Linked DNA regions of Homo sapiens: region 2 is linked to region 1. A link means that fine-mapping ties the variant in region 1 to the expression of a gene that starts in the linked region. Tissue or cell type: whole blood. Region 1 holds a variant in brackets; the other region holds the start of a gene. All regions are shown on one strand. Distances are from middle to middle.

Evidence for each region. PIP is the estimated chance that this variant, and not a neighbour inherited with it, causes the effect.
Region 2: FOXO4 starts here. The variant in region 1 is fine-mapped to the expression of FOXO4 in whole blood (TOPMed, PIP 0.97).

The regions. Positions count from the first base shown.
Region 1 is chrX:71,006,670-71,014,776 of GRCh38, forward strand. No RefSeq gene overlaps it. Among named protein-coding and RNA genes, the nearest start is that of SNX12, 58 kb to the right of the region's middle. The variant C/T (reference allele first, on the strand shown) is at 4,959.
Region 2 is chrX:71,091,479-71,099,585 of GRCh38, forward strand. FOXO4 (forkhead box O4) reads left to right here and starts at 4,373. Exons shown (of 3, transcript NM_005938.4): 1 at 4,373-5,503. The coding sequence starts at 5,051. RefSeq lists an enhancer at 6,841-7,135.

The DNA of each region.
Region 1 (8,107 bases):
ATCCCCATCACTAACCAACACCTAACTGTATATGCCCAACTGCTTTCCAAGAAGGTTGTACATGTCTTCAATCCCTTATCTACAATTTTGAAATCTGAAAATAAACCAAAAGTATTTTTCATGATTTTGGCTTTTTTCACTTTGCTTATGGCGTTTTGGTATTTTTTACTACTTACAATTTTTTCAAGGTTATCAATAATTTTCTTTATGGTTGTGCTTGCCTTACTCTTCCAGCCACTATAAACTGGTTTCTGAACCATACCATTCCAATTATACTGCTCAAGAAGGTCACCAATTGTGCTTAAAAGCCAAATTTCATGAGCGTTTTCAAGTATAATGAAATAACTAGTTGACCTCTGCAGCATTTGATCCTATTCATCTTTTTCTACCTTAGAACTTTCACCTCCCTTAGCTTTGACACCACTATCTCCTTAGTGCTCTGAATCTCTCTCTCAACCAACAGTCTACACACTATTAATGGGATACAGCACTGTGCAGTGGGATTCAGAATTTTCATTAAAATTACCGACAATTCATGTGCTCTCACGTCCAACTGGGTGATGTGCTATGTGTGGTAGGTGTGATATATCATGAAAAACTTACTGTGCAAAAATATTGAGTGTTTCAATTAAGGATTTATTAAGGTAAAAATATATTAATGAGTAATTTCCAAATGAATTCGATACAACAGTGATGTGACATTAATGCCAATGAACTCAGGGAAAAAAGAACTTAGGAGATAAATTATGTATCTGCTACCCCCTACACTAATTGTTACGTGTTCATATCTTTGTTTCTCTCTAAGTGCCTATGTGTCACTTAGACTAGCATATAGTTAGCTGCTGATTGATGTGTATCTTCTCCAAAAGGTAAATTTAGTCACAACATTCTCAATCCAAGCACAAAATAAAGGTCAGATACTGCAAAGAAAAATACCTTATTGTGCAATATTTTACAAACAGCATAGTAATACTTGTTTTAGGCAAGAATCATCAATGAATGCTAGAACTAGTGGGTGAAAGTTTGATGAGAAACAAGATATTCTCAAAATATCTTCCTCAAAGATATTTATTAGTTGCAAAGGGAAGAATAGTACCTTGAGAATGTAGAAAACTGGCAGATCTTTTTAACCAACTGGTGATCAACATTAATATCACCAGTAATGGCACAAATAAATATCATGTGCCTCCTGATATTATGCACTGAGAAGGACACAAATTACTTCTGTACTATTCCTACTGAAAATGCTTAACTTGAATTAAATTGCATGGAAACATCAGACAAACCCAAAATGAGGGACATTCTAAAAAAACTGACCTATGTTCTTCAAAAATATTAATGCCATGAATGACAAAGAAAGGCTAAGGAATATGTTCCAGATTAAAGGAAACTAAAGTTGGTGGTTTCCCAAAATGTTAAATATAGAATTACCATATGACCCAGCAATTCCACTCCTAGGTATATGCCCAAGAGATTCAAAACAAATATTCAAACAAAACCTTGAAAACATATGTTCATAGAAGCACTATTCACAGTAGTGAAAAGGTAAAAACAACCCAAACGTCCATCAGTGGATAACTGGAAAAACAAAATGTAGTGTATCCACACAATGGAATATTTTTCAGCCAGAAAATGGTTGAAGTAATGATACATGCCAAAATGTGGATAAACCTTGAAAATATCATGCTAAGTCAAAGAAGTCAGACACAAAAACCACATATTGGATGATTTCATTTACATGAAATGTCCAGAATAAACAAATCCACAAAGACAGAAAGCACATTGGTGGTTGCCAGGGGCTTGGGAGAAAGCAGGACAAATTACATGTATTTTTTTTTTTTTCTGAGAGAGGGTCTTGCTCTGTCACCCAGGCTGGAGTACAGTGGTGTGACCATGGCTCACTGCAGCCTTGAACTCCCGGGGTCAATCGATCCTCCCATCTCAGCCTCCCAAGTAGTTGGGACTACAGGCATGCACCACCACACCTGGCTAATTTTTGTATTTTTTGTTTTGTTTTTATTTAACTTGTATTTTAAGTTCAGGGTACATGTGCAGGTTTGTTATATAGATAAACTTGTGTCATGGGGGTTTGTTGTACAGGTTATTTTATCACCCAGGTATTAAGCCTAGTACCCATTAGTTATTTTTCCTGATCCTCTCTCTCCTCCCACCCTCCAATAGGCTTCAGTGTGTGTGGTTTTTTTGTTTGTTTGTTTGTTTTTGTTTGTTTTTTGTTTTTGAGATGGAGTCTCGATCTGTCGCCCAGGCTGGAGTGCAGTGGCGCAATCTCGGCTCACTGCAAGCTCCACCTCCCAGGTTCACACTATTTTCCTGCCTCAGACTCCCCAGTAGCTAGCTGGGACTACAGGCACCCGCCACCACGCCCGGCTAATTTTTTTTGTATTTTTAGTAGAGACGGGGTTTCACCATGTTAGCCAGGATGGTCTCGATCTCCTGACCTCCTGATCCACCCGCCTCGGCCTCTCAAAGTGCTGGGATTACAGGCGTGAGCCACCGCACCCAGCCCAGTGTGTGTTGTTTCCCTCTATGAGTCCATGTGTTCTCATCATTCAGCTCCCACTTATAAGTGAGAACATGCGGTATTTGGCTTTCTGTTCCTGCATTAGTTTGCTAAGAATAATGGTCTACAGCTCCATCCATGCTCCTACAAAGGACATGATCTCATTCTTTTTTGTGGCTGTATAGTATTCCATGGTGTATACATACCACATTTTCCTTATCCAGTCTACCATTGATGGGCATTTAGGTTGATTTCATGTCTTTGCTATTGTGATTTGGTCACAATGAACATACATGTGTATGCCTTTAAAACAGAATGGTTTATATTCCTTTGGGTATATACCCAATAAAGAGATTGCTGGGTCTAATGGTATTTCTGTTTTTAGGTCTTTGAGGAATTGCCACACAATCTTCCACAATGATTGAACTAATTTACACTCCCACCAGCAGTATGTAAGTGTTCCTTTTTCTCCACAACCTTGCCAGCAGCTGTTATTTTTTGACTTTTTAATAGTAGCCTGATGTGAGATGGTATCTCATTGTGGTTTTGACTTGCATTTCTGTAATGATCAGTGATGTTGAGCTTTTTTCATATTTTTGTTGGCCACATGTATGTTTTCTTTTGAAACATGTCTGTTTATGACCTTTGTGGGGTTTTGCCATTTTGCCCACCAACCCAAGTCCCACCTCCTCAGTATGCTTTTCAAAAAAAGTATTGTAACCTTGAAAGTACAATGTATCTCAAACTATGGATCACTCCCAAAGTACCTAGCATAGCTCTGGGCATAAAGAACCCAAGTAAGTGCTTTCCCAAACTGATGCATACATAAATTAACAAGAACAAAATTCAGATTATTTAATGAACATAATCTCAATCTCCTTCACTGGCTCCTCATTCTCTGCTCATCCCTTAAACACTATTGTGAAAATGGGGCTTATATTAATACCTACTTCATGTAAGGTTGTTGTGAGAATTGAATGAGTAAGTACATATAAAACATTTAGTATAGTGCCTGCTACATAGTAGGTGCTCAGTAAATGTTAGAAATTATTATATCGCTGTCACTTTTCCCCAAACTTTTGTTATTGCCTGTAGTCTCATTCTTGGTTAATGGTCTCACCATTGACCTAGGCTCCTAAACCTATTTTCATGCCATTTAATGGCTTCAATCCCTTCTTAACTCCTCTCACACTCCCCATATTCACTTAGTCACCAAAGGCCTATTGATCCTTCTTTAAGGATCTGGGCTGGGCACAGTGGCTCACGCCTGTAATCCCAGCACTTTGGGAGGCTGAGGTGGGTGGCTCACCTCTGGTCAGGAGTTTGAGACCAGCCTGGCCAAAATGGTGAAACCCTGTCTCTACTAAAAATAAAAAAAAAATTAGCTGGGCATGGTGGCACGTGCCTGTAATCCCAGCTACTCGGGAGGCTGAGGCAGGAGAATCACTTGAACCCAGAAGGCAGAGGTTGCAGTGAGCCGAGATCACACCATTGCACTCCAGCCTGGGCGATAGAGCAAGAATCCATAAAACAAAACAAAACAAAACAAAACCTCTCTGAATATATCACCTGCTCTCTTTTGTTCAGGCCCTCATTTCTCCCTTGAGAATACCAATGTCCTTCTAGTCTCCCTACCTCTGGCCTTTCCCCTGCCCAGTCTTCTTTATACTGTAACCATCCATCTAAAACACAGTTTACTCTCCCCTTTAAAGCTCCTCAACTGCTACCAGTTATTCACATAGTTTGGCATGCAAGGCTCTTCTGTGCTCTGACCACTGCCTACCTATCCAACTTTACCTTCTATCCAATTCTTTATTCTATACCTATAGTTCAATTATACCAGTCTATTTTCAGTTATAAGAATGGGCCATGCTGTTTCACCCCAGCATACCTGGGTAGTTTAAATTCTTCTTCCTGAAATATCCTTCCTAACTTTGTGCATTTTGTAAATACTTATTCATTCCCTGTTTCCATTTAATTACCTTCTCTGTGAAGATGTCTCAAATCTCACTCTCCATTGTTATACTTTATCACATTTTATGTTTGTTTCCCCTACTACTAGATTGCTCTTATTCCTGAAAAGCAAAAGCCATGTCTTATTCATATATTTATTCTCAATGTTTTGCATAGTATCTAGTACATAGTGTGTTGGGAGGAGATGGTTAGTTAATGACTAAATAAGCCGCCTCTCTGGCCTTATTTCCTACTATCCTACTGGTTCCATGGATACACATAGCACTTTCTAGCCTCTCTCCTTTGCTGCTGCCAATCTCTGTGCCTACAGTGTTTTCCACTACTTCATCTCAACCTACTGAAAACCTATTTTCCATGGGGCAGGTGATTCTTATCTCTTGTTGCTACCTTTTCTGATCACCATGGCTAAAAATGATCTCTTTCTTAGCCCGGTCTCTATTACATGGTGAGATCTTAGGATCAA[C/T]AAGATCCAAAGATCAATAAGATTTTAGGATAGATAAGATCTAAAGATCAATAATATCCACTCTCTGCCCTCAAGAACTCACTGTCTACCATGGGGGTCCTTAAGCTAGGACAGTGGTTCTTGAAGCCTAGTGAATAAAAGAATTACCTGGTGGGATTGTTCAAGATATTTGAGGCCTACCCTCAAAAGATTCTGATTTAGTAACTCAGGTTGCTTTATAAACAAGCATTCCTAGTGATTCTAATGCAGGTGAATAGTCTGTGCATGTCCTTTGGGAGGTTCATGAACCTGATGAACAACTGTGTAAATATATACGTACATGTGTATTTTTCTAGACAGATTCCACAGTTTATAGTACATCATCTATGACCTCTAAAATAGTTTAAAAGTCACTGATCAAATGGGAAATAGATATGTTAACTGACAGGTTACAAAACAATCCAGCTAAGTGATAGAAGAGAAATATGAATAAAGTGCTGTGGGAATATAGATCAGAAAGCAACTAAGTGTCCCAGAGACAGCTAAGAAAAGCTTCATGTGAGGGTAACATTTTATTTATTTATTATTTATTTGTTTTTAGAGGCAGGATCTCACTCTGTTGCCCAGGCTGGAGTATAGTAGCACAATCATATCACATGAAATCATATCATATGAAATCATATGATTTCATATTGTGAAATCATAGTTCACTGCAGCCTCCAAGTCCTGGGCTCAAGAGGTCCTCTACCTCAGCCTCCCAAATAGCTGTGACTACAGGTGTGCACCACCACAGCCCGCTAATTTTTTTTTTCAGAGATGAAAGTCTCACTACCTTGCCAAGCTGGTCTTAAACCCCTGGCCTCAAGTGATCCTCCTGCCTCAGCCTCCTGTGTAGCTGAGATTATAGGTGTGTTACCAAACCCAGCTTAGGTTAACATTTTAGCAGGATTTTCTAAAGTGAGTATACATTTGCCAAGTGCAGTAGAATGCTGGTAATTCTAGGCATAGGGAACAGGATATGTAAAGACACAGAGATACAAAAAAGAAGTTTTACTTTCAATATGTCTAGAATATTTTGAAAGGAGATACATGTGAATAATGAGACTAGAGACACAGGTAGGGCTTTGTATGCCAAGTTAAATAGTTGCTTTGCTTTGTTTTGTTTTGTTTTGTTTTTCAGAGATAGGCTGGAGTGCAGTGGTGCTCGTAGCTCACTGGAATCTCCAACTCCTAGGCTCAAGTGATCCTCCTGTCTCAGCTTCCCAAGGCACTAAAACTAGAGTGTGCAGTATTTTTTTTTATTTATTTAGTACAGATAGCGTCTCATTCTGTCACCCAGGCTGCTCTCAAACCCCTGGCCTCAACTAATCCTCCTACTTCAGCTTTCCAAAGTGCTGGGATTACAAACATGAGCCACCACGCCTGGCCTGTTAAAGAGTTTTATTCTGTAAATAACAGAGAAACAAGAGTAGTTTTTAAATTAAGGTAAATTAAGGTAAAATTCACCATTTTAACCACTTTATATTTTTTATTTATTTATTTATTTTAGAGACAGGGTCTTGTTCTGTTGCCAAGACTGGAGTACAGTGGCACAATCATAGCTCACTGCAGCCTCACACTCCTGGTCTCAAGTGATCTTACTGCCTCAGCCTCTCAAGTTGCTGGGATCACAAACCCAAGCTACTGTGCCCAGCTAAGTTTTGTATTTTTACTAGAGACGGCGTTTCACCATGTTGGCCAGGCTGGTCTCAAACTCCTGACATCAAGTGATCCACCAGCCTTGGCCTCCCAAAGTGCTGGGAGTATGGTCGTGAGCCACTGCACCTGGCCAGGAGATCTATTGTACATCATGATGACTATAGTGGCTCCCAGGCATTGGGAGAAAAGGAATGAATAGGTGGAGCACAGAGGATTTTTAGGGCAGTGAAACTATTCTGTATGATACTGTAATGGTAGATACATGTCACTAAACATTTGTTGAAACCCATAGAATATATAATACCAAGAGTGAACCCTAATGTAAACTATAGACCTTGGGTAGTAATGATGGTTCATTGATAGTGACAAATATACCACTCTGGTGTGGGATGTTGATAGTAAAAGAGATTGTGCGTGTGTGGACAGGAAGTATACGGGAACTCTCTATACCTTTTGCTCAATTTTGCTGTGAACTAAAACTTCTCTAAAAAATAAAGTGTATGGCCAGAAGCGGTGGCTCATGCTTGTAATCCCAGCACTTTGGGAGGCCAAGGTGGGTGGATCATGAGGTCAGGAGTTCGAGACCAGCCTGGCCAACATGGTAAAACCCCGTCTCTACTAAATACAAAAATTAGCCAGGCGTGGTGGTGCGCGTCTGTAGTCCCAGCTACGCTGGAGGCTGAGGCAGGAGAATCACTTGAACCTGGGAGTTGGAGGTTGCAGTGAGCCAAGATCGCACCATTGCACTCCAGCCTGGGCAACAGAGCAAGACCCTGTCTCAAAAAATTAAAATAAATAAAACAATGTAAAACAATAACAACAAAAAATCCTGTATCTTTAAACTTTATCCCCTATGACTCCTTTTTTAGGCCTCCTGCCCTTTTAGGGCAAATTCTCCTGCCTCAGCCTCCCAAGTAGCTTTTTTAGGCCTCACAAAACTTGGTCCATAAAAACCAGTCCATCCCTTTCCTTGCTATCTAGACTGAGAGGCCTAACTCCTCCTCCTTAACTTTGATAAGCCGTCTGAAAAGCCTCTTTAGTACCTCTTCTTTAGTCTCCCTGTGACACTTCAACTCCCGGCAGCCTGCTTTACTCTACCCAGACAAATAACCTAATGACTTATGTCCAAAAGGTGATCTGAACTGATTAAGGAGGAAACTCTTTTTTCTTAGAGATTGTGTCTCACTATGTTGCCCAGGCTGGTCTCAAACTACTGGTCTGAAGTGATTCTCCCACCTCAGCCTCCTGAGTAGCTGGGACTACAGGTGCGTGCCGCCATGCCCAGCTATCTTTTATACTTTACCATCTTCTCTGTTTTCAACTAGCATGGCCTATCCACCTAACCTGTCCATCGTTTTACTATTTTCCAAAAAATTCAAGATTTGAGTCAAACAGAAACATTAAAAATACTAATGGTAAATACTAAGAATGCTAATGTTGGCTGGGCGCGGTGGCTCATGCCTGTAATCCCA
Region 2 (8,107 bases), 85 kb after region 1:
GGCAGTGAAAGTCAAGAGAGCCAAACCCCTATGACCTTGAAGAGGAAAAAAAACAAATTGTGAATGGGGGGACATTTGAGAAAATAAACTCTGGGGTTTCAAACTGGGAGAAAAGCCTGTGTCTTCTAAATCCTGCCATTATCTGTTTGTAGCTTACAGCTACGGTGGTTTCTGGGAGCCTCCTATTAATCTTGTTTCCTGCCCAATGTCTTTTTATTTTCCAAGACCATCTTGCTAATTCTGTCTCTTGACTAATGTTATTTTGCAACATTTTCACAGCTGAACAACCCTGACCTCTCTATCTGCATGCTTTAAAGTCATGATGGTGTTTTTACCATCCCACCAATCCTTTAGCTCGTCCTCCTAAATTATCTGGTCCTATGACGTGTGGTCATTTTTATCTGTCCAGGATTTCAAGGTGTACTCTCAACAGTAAAGGCTCCACAAACATCCGTTGATTGATAGTAGAGTTTATAATCTAGTTGGGGAGACAATATGCCCTCATGAAATGAAAAGCCATGTAAGCAGAAGCACAAAGTTAAAGAATACAAGCCGGGCGCAGTGGCTCACGCCTGTAATCCCAGCACTTTGGGAGGCCGAGGCGGGTGGATCACTGAGGTCAGGAGTTCAAGACCAGCCTGGCCAACATGGTGAAACTCCGTCTCTACTAAAAATACAAAAATCAGCCAGGTGTGGTGGCGCTCGCCTGTAATCCCAGCTACCAGGGAGGCTGAAGCAGGAGAATTGCTTGAACCCAAGAAGTGGAAGGTGCAGTGAGCCGATATCGCACCACTGCACTCCAGCCTGGGCGACAAAGCAAGACTCTGTCTCAAAAAAAAAATAAATAAAAAATAAAAATACAAACTGAGTTCATAGAGGTTCAGGAGATGCAAATTGGAGAAGTGGCCTGTCAGGTTGGACTAGTCAGGAAAAGTTTCCAAGGGCAGGTTAGTTTTGAGCTTTGAATTGTAAATTTAAGGAGGTGATGGACATGAGTTGGTGGAGAGGTGGACCTTTTCAAACAAATGCACAAAGAGAGACAATGCAAGATTTAACTCAGGCCAGGACAGGTGCCTGCCCCACCCTGCCATTTCCCTGTCTCAGTAACTCTGCATGATCTGCCATCATAGCTGTTTCAGTTAGAAGAGATCTCCTTGTGACCTAGTGCCACAAGGCTCTCTCCTCTACCAAATTCACCACTCATGCAGCACTTATCAGGCACCCTTAGCTGGGGTGAAGGAAAAAGGGGCATGTGCAGGGAATGTTTGCAGGCATCGTGAGCAACTATGTCTCATCTCTCTAGTCTGGACCTCAGATGGGAATATATGGCCTTTTGTATACACCTAGGTAACAGGTGGAGGACAAATGCATGTTGGAGCAGAAGAAGGCAGGAATATGGAGAACCAATATGGCTATTTTACCATGATCAGGCTAATATCACTTTGGAGGCCCAATGTGCTGCCACCGCTGAAAAATCCTGGGTTGCATGGATATCCTTCTGCACAGGAGGAAGGCCGCATCATCACAGAACACAATAGAAACACTGCAAGTGGCAGACAAGCCAAATTACAGTCCCTGCCCCTCAGAGGTTGCTGTCTAACAGTTGGAACAGGGCCAGGCAAAAAATGCATAGGACATGTTTATTTAAAAGTTGTTAAATGTCCAAATGCTATTTGTGATACTTCATTTAATAAATGATATTTGCCGAGCACTGTGGCTCACACCTGTAATCCCAACACTTTGGGAGGCCAAGGCGGGTGGATCACCAGAGGCCAGGAGTTCAAGACCAGCCTGACCAACATGGTGAAAACCCATCTCTACTAAAAATACAAATATTAGCTGGGAATGGTGGCAGGCACCTGTAATCCCAGCTACTCGGGAGGCTGAGGCAGGAGAATCGTCTGAACCTGGGAGGTGGAGGTTGCAGTGAGCCGAGATTGTGCCATTGCACTCCAGCCTGGGTGACAGAGCGAGACCCTGTCTAAAAAAAAAATAAATAAGAGCTCACAGTTTACTGGGAGAGACAGATAAGTAAACAAATAATTACAATACAATATAGTTTGTGCTATATAACATAAGACTGCACAAAGTGCTTAGGAATGCAGAAAAAAAAGGAGAACTAATCACACCTAAGGGAGACAGGGAAGGCTGAATAGGAGTTTTCCAAAATAAGAGACGTGGAGAGGAATGACAAGAGGGATGATATCCCAGGATGCAGAGAGAAAGGTATAAAAGGGCATGGTATTTCCAGGAAATAGTGTGAAACTCTGCTTGTAACTTAGTGTGCAGGAAAGGTGTGAAGTGGCCTGAATCTGAGGAGCCTGGCATGCCTTGCGAGGGAATTTGAACTTTATCACACAGGCAATGGGGAAAATCAGAGGAAGATTTAACCAGGGAAATTACATGATCAAAAAAACAAAATTTATAGCCAGGTGCGGTGGCTCATGCCTGTAATCCCAGCACTTTCAGAGGCCAAGGCAGGTGGATCACTTGAAGTCAGGAGTTCCAGACCAGCCTGAGCAACACGGTGAAACCCCGTCTCTACAGAAAATACAAAAATTAGCTGGGCGTGGTGGCACATGCCTGTAGTCCCAGCTACTCCCGAGGCTGAGATGGGAGGATTGCTTGAGTGCAGCAGGTCAAGGCTGCAGTGAGCCAAGATCACACCACTGCATTCCAGTCTGAGTGACAGAGCAAGACCCTGTCTCAAAAAAGAAGGAAAGAAGGAAGGAAGGAAGGAAGGAAGGAAGGAAGGAAGGAAGGAAGGAAGGAAGGAGAAAGAAAGAAAGAAAGAAAGAAAGAAAAAGAAAGAAAGAAAGAAAGAAAGAAAGAAAGAAAGAAAGAAGGAAGGAGAAAGAAAGAAGGAAGGAAGGAAGGAAAGAAAGAAAGAAGGAAGGAAAGAAAGAAAGAAATTATACGATCGCATGTAAGTTATATAATCCCAGTTCTGCCTCGTTGGGCAAGTCAATCTCTGAGCATTGTTAGTGTCTTCATCTATAAAATGCGGATAATAGTGGTACCTACCTCATGGGGTTGAATTGAGGAGTAAATGATTGAGGAGTAAATGAACTAATGTTCGTAAAGCAATTTGCACAGAGACTGGCACATAATAAGGGCTCCATAAATTTTAGCCATAATTACCAGACATGTTTCTTAGAACGGTAACCTTGCTGGCAGCTCTGAATATAAACTGTAGTGAGGTAAAGACTGATGGAAGGAGATCCAATTAAGATGATACTGCACCTTTTTTTTTTTTTGACAGGGTGTTATTCTGTCACCCAGGCTGGAGCACAGTGGCATGATCTTGGCTCACTGCAACCTCCACCTCTTGGGTTCAAGCGACTCTCCCACCTCAGCCTCCCAAGTAGCTGGGACTACAGGTGCGTGCCCCACACCAGGCTAATTTTTCTATTTTTAGCAGAGATGGGTTTCACCATGTTGGCCAGGCTGGTCTCAAACTCCTGACCTCAAGTGATCCGCCTGCCTCGACCTCCCAAAGTGCTGATATTACAGGCGTCAGCCACTGCACCCGGCTGATCCTACAATTTAAATGCAGTTATAAATAGGTCTTGAACTGGGATTTGGATGTAGAAAGTTACGGAGATGAAGAAGTAATGGGTAATTACCTCTAAGCTGCTGCTTGGAGCTTGGGAGACTGGGTAGATCAGGACTACCATAAGTCAAATTCAGAGATAAGGGTAGCCAGAGGATAGGGGTGCGGGTGCAGGAACAGATAATGAGTTTGGACCTGTTGAATGAGAAGTGAAGCCGTTGGAGATGTGAACCTGGAGAATATCGGTGTTGAAGGGAAAGCCAGAAGAGCCAGTGGAGGAAACTGATTGGTAAGTGAGACCTCACTGTCAGTGGGAACTGCATATGGGGGGATGAAGGCGGGTGGAGGGAGGAGGAAGGGGGTGAGGAGGAACACCACCGTGGGCTAACCATTTGTTTATGTTACACAAGCCCCCCACCCAACTCTCCAACGTGCATACATCCTATTTTCTAGTCAGTTCCTTGCTTCTTGCTTCTTGGTCTCCTGCATCTTTAAGAGAATAATTTTTTCCCTTTTGCCGTCTCCTAAATGAAGGAGGGAAAGGGCTAGCACCTCTCAATCTGGTCACCTACACGACTCTGAATCACAAGGGAGACAATGGAAAGGGGGAAAGGGCGAAAAACGATTCTTAAGAAAAGAAAGAGTCCGCGACGACTTCTAATAATTAAAGTTCCACCTCGTTATATCCTGCCACGCCGCTCTCCTGCCGCCGTATCGGGCTCCTGGCCGCGAAGCAGGACGGGAGATGTAGTCCTCAAGAGTGACCAGGGTGGCACGACTGCAGAACTCGGTTTCCCGACTGGCTTTCGAGGCGCGTGCGCAGATGGCTGCCCCGGCGAGTGGTAAACAGAGACGTCAGGAGGGGGCTGCTGCTTGGAGCAAAACAAAAGGGAAACCCGGGGGGCGGGGGGTGGGGGGGGTTGATAGGGGAATCGGTGCGGGAATAAGGGAGGCCGCAGCCGCGGGGACCCGGACCCTAGTAAGAGTGGCGAGAAGGGAAGAGGCGGGGGAAGGGGGAGTCAGGGGAGGGGCAAGTGACGCGGGGGAGCGGGGCGTGGGGGAGGGCAGCAATCCGGGTGGAGGAAATTTGGGAGGAGTGTCCGGGGGGCAGCAACTTAAAAGGGGGAGGGAACTGCGGCTAAGGAGACGTTCGGTGATGGGAGCGCAATATATGAGGGGATACAGTGCCTCAGGTTTAAAAGAGCAGGAAGCTGAGTGAGAGGTTGCAGAAAAAGTGTCTTCGCTCGGCAGAGGTTACAGGTGGCATCTCAGAAAGAGCTTTGAGGCTACAGGCTGTAGTCGGGAAGGGGATCGGAGAACTGTGTGAAGGGACAGCTTAGGGACTAGCGTCCTGGGACTAGGGGGAAGTTCGCGACTTTCTGAAGACTGGCAGGAATGTGCCTCCTGGCCCTCGATGCTTCCCCCCTGAGGGGAGGCATCGTGAGGGACTGTGGCAGGCTTCACTGAACGCTGAGCCGGGGAGGTCCAACTCCACGTATGGATCCGGGGAATGAGAATTCAGCCACAGAGGCTGCCGCGATCATAGACCTAGATCCCGACTTCGAACCCCAGAGCCGTCCCCGCTCCTGCACCTGGCCCCTTCCCCGACCAGAGATCGCTAACCAGCCGTCCGAGCCGCCCGAGGTGGAGCCAGATCTGGGGGAAAAGGTACACACGGAGGGGCGCTCAGAGCCGATCCTGTTGCCCTCTCGGCTCCCAGAGCCGGCCGGGGGCCCCCAGCCCGGAATCCTGGGGGCTGTAACAGGTCCTCGGAAGGGAGGCTCCCGCCGGAATGCCTGGGGAAATCAGTCATATGCAGAACTCATCAGCCAGGCCATTGAAAGCGCCCCGGAGAAGCGACTGACACTTGCCCAGATCTACGAGTGGATGGTCCGTACTGTACCCTACTTCAAGGACAAGGGTGACAGCAACAGCTCAGCAGGATGGAAGGTAATTATGACCCTCTTACCTTCTTCCCAACACCATCTACCCCCTGGACCCCCTAGCCTCCCTTACTTCTACTCTGGGGCCCCTTTTACTACCTCCCACCCCCACCCCCTTTGGGAAGCCCAGAGATCCACCTTCAATCTCCAGTTAGACAAACATTTACTTAGTACATAGTATATGCCACACTCGGTGCTTGATGCTGAAGGATCACAGATGAATAAGACACTGTCCCTGCCCTGGAGAAAATTGAATTCTCTGCTCACTGCTCAATATTCGCAGCACTTTGGCTTGGGCTGCCCCAAACACTTATTCCCACAGAGAAGTCTTTATCCTATGTACAGCAGGAACTGTGTGGATTCCCCACATGAACCTACCCTTCCCTCCTCCCCCACCTCCCACCCCAACACCTTTTCTCCCATTCCTGTGGGATTACTTGGATTCCCTGCTTGCCTCCCAGTACCTCAGTGTAGTGGTACTGTTCTAGCACTGCTCTACCCAGGAGGAGGGAGTGCAGTGGCAAAGGGTAAAAACAATAATATTCATGGGGAAAGGTAGCTGATCTCATGCACTAAGAAGAAAAAGGGCTGTGAGCTGCCACTTGGCTCAGCTTACCCTGTGCTGCCAAGAAACTCTCCCTTGTAAGGGGCTATCCAAGTTTTGGGGGGAAGTCATCCTTTACTGTTAAGGAATATTAGTCATGAAGAAGGAGGTAGGGCTCTGACTTTAGAGCACAAAGTTGGGAGTTCTCTTGGCCTTCTGTGAAGAAACTGTGAGAGAATATCTCAAAGGATACTCTGAAAAACTTGTCCTGAGAAAATATGGGGCTGTAATCACAAAATTGGGGAGCCTCAAGCCCTATTGCTGGCTTGTACCTCTCTAGGTGGTGAGGTCAGCATATAACCAAGTACAGAAGGTTGGATGAGCAGAGGAACTTCCCCTAGGTATAGGAGACTGAGGGATCAGATCTGTGCTATCCCTAGGGGCTGGGCAGAACAGAAGATAGGACAGCTGACTGAGACCCTTGGCACTATTTCTGGGTAGACTGCCACGCCACAGTCTCAGCTCATAAAAAGCTCCCCTCCTTGGACCCAGCCTACACAGCTGTTTTTCTTTTCCCTTAGGTTCATTTTCCAGGGTAGAGGAAATAACAAGTTGTTAGTTATATTGTGGGAGTATAGTCCGTCCTTATAATCTACACTTCTGTGGGGCTTTAGAGTTTACAAAGTAGTTTTTAAAGTTTTTATTTTATTAATCTTTACAGCAATTCTGAGATTCCACATTTTACACATTAGGAAACTAGGTACCAAAAGGTTAGGAAATTCACCTAATAACAGCAGGGTGAGGACTTGAACTCAGGTCTAACTATAAATCATATTCTCTAAAAAGAGCCTGGCTTGCTCTAATTGGAATGAGGGCAAAGTCAAATCAGGCTGAGCCTGGGACTTCAAGGCCCCCCCACCCCTCTCTGAGGGGAAGTCTCATGCCTGAACTGGCCTCCCTGATGATATGCCAAGGTTACTCCCACCCCACCAGGGGGCGGCACTCACTTAGAACAAGAAAGTTTAGATTAGGTGGCTTAGGGAGCAATTAGCAGTCACCCCCACCACCCTGCCCTCCAACATGTAAGAGTTATGGGCTTTTGGGAAACTGACCTCTCCAATTAAGAGTCTGTGTACCACTTGCTAGTTCCAAGGCCTAAAGAAGAGGAGACAAACGGGCCTTGTGGCTATTAAGTAGTAGGGAAAGGAATGGATCTTCTCAAGTAGATCCAGAATTAGAGGATAAAAAGAGGAGAAATCATAGTGCCAGGTCATGGTCATTGTGGTCCTTAGTTACTATGAGGTGAGGCCGGATGGACAAGTGCCACTCCTTGAAGGAACATCAGCACAGTTGAAATGCCATTACCTCAGGGTCCCAGGAACACAAGGAGTTCTTTGGCTAAAGAACCCTGGAACAAGAAGCATCATTCCCCAGGCAAAGGTGCTCCTTATCTTAAGAGCACCAGTCAGAGAAACAAGTAGTTTCTGACCGTCCCATGTACTCAGCCTCCTAGTTGCTCTAAGCACTTCTGGGCTCCTCCTGAATTTCTAAACTAAAGACCTCCAAGTGGGAGGTCAAATGCCCCCAAGGTTGAAGAGTTTATGCACAAATTCCTGAGAAATGGGGGAAAGGCACTGGGAAGGAGGTAGGGAAAAGAAGGCAGGTTTCGGGAAGGGGGGTGGCCAGGGGAGGGCCAAACCCCTTGTGTAACTAGCCTGCCCCGCGGCAATCAGTAAATATAAGCTGCACTGGGGGCTGAAGAAGCTGCCAATCTCAGCTCCCTGGGCCACTGGAAAGCATCGTTTCCCTAGTAGAATGTCACCAGTGAGGGAGGAAGGGAAAACATACAGCTTCCAATACCCAAGGCACTGAAGAGCTGGCAGAGCCTCAAGGGGAGCCTCACCATTGTCAACCCAGGGGCAACCCACCAATCAGGTACAAATATTGATTATGTACTGTGAGCTTGAGTAGGTATAGAATATGTGCTGTGAGCTTGGTGCTCTGGGAGGGCTTTGATGGGGGATGTGGGACTGGAGGACATTACACTTGGCACTTACACTCGATGAG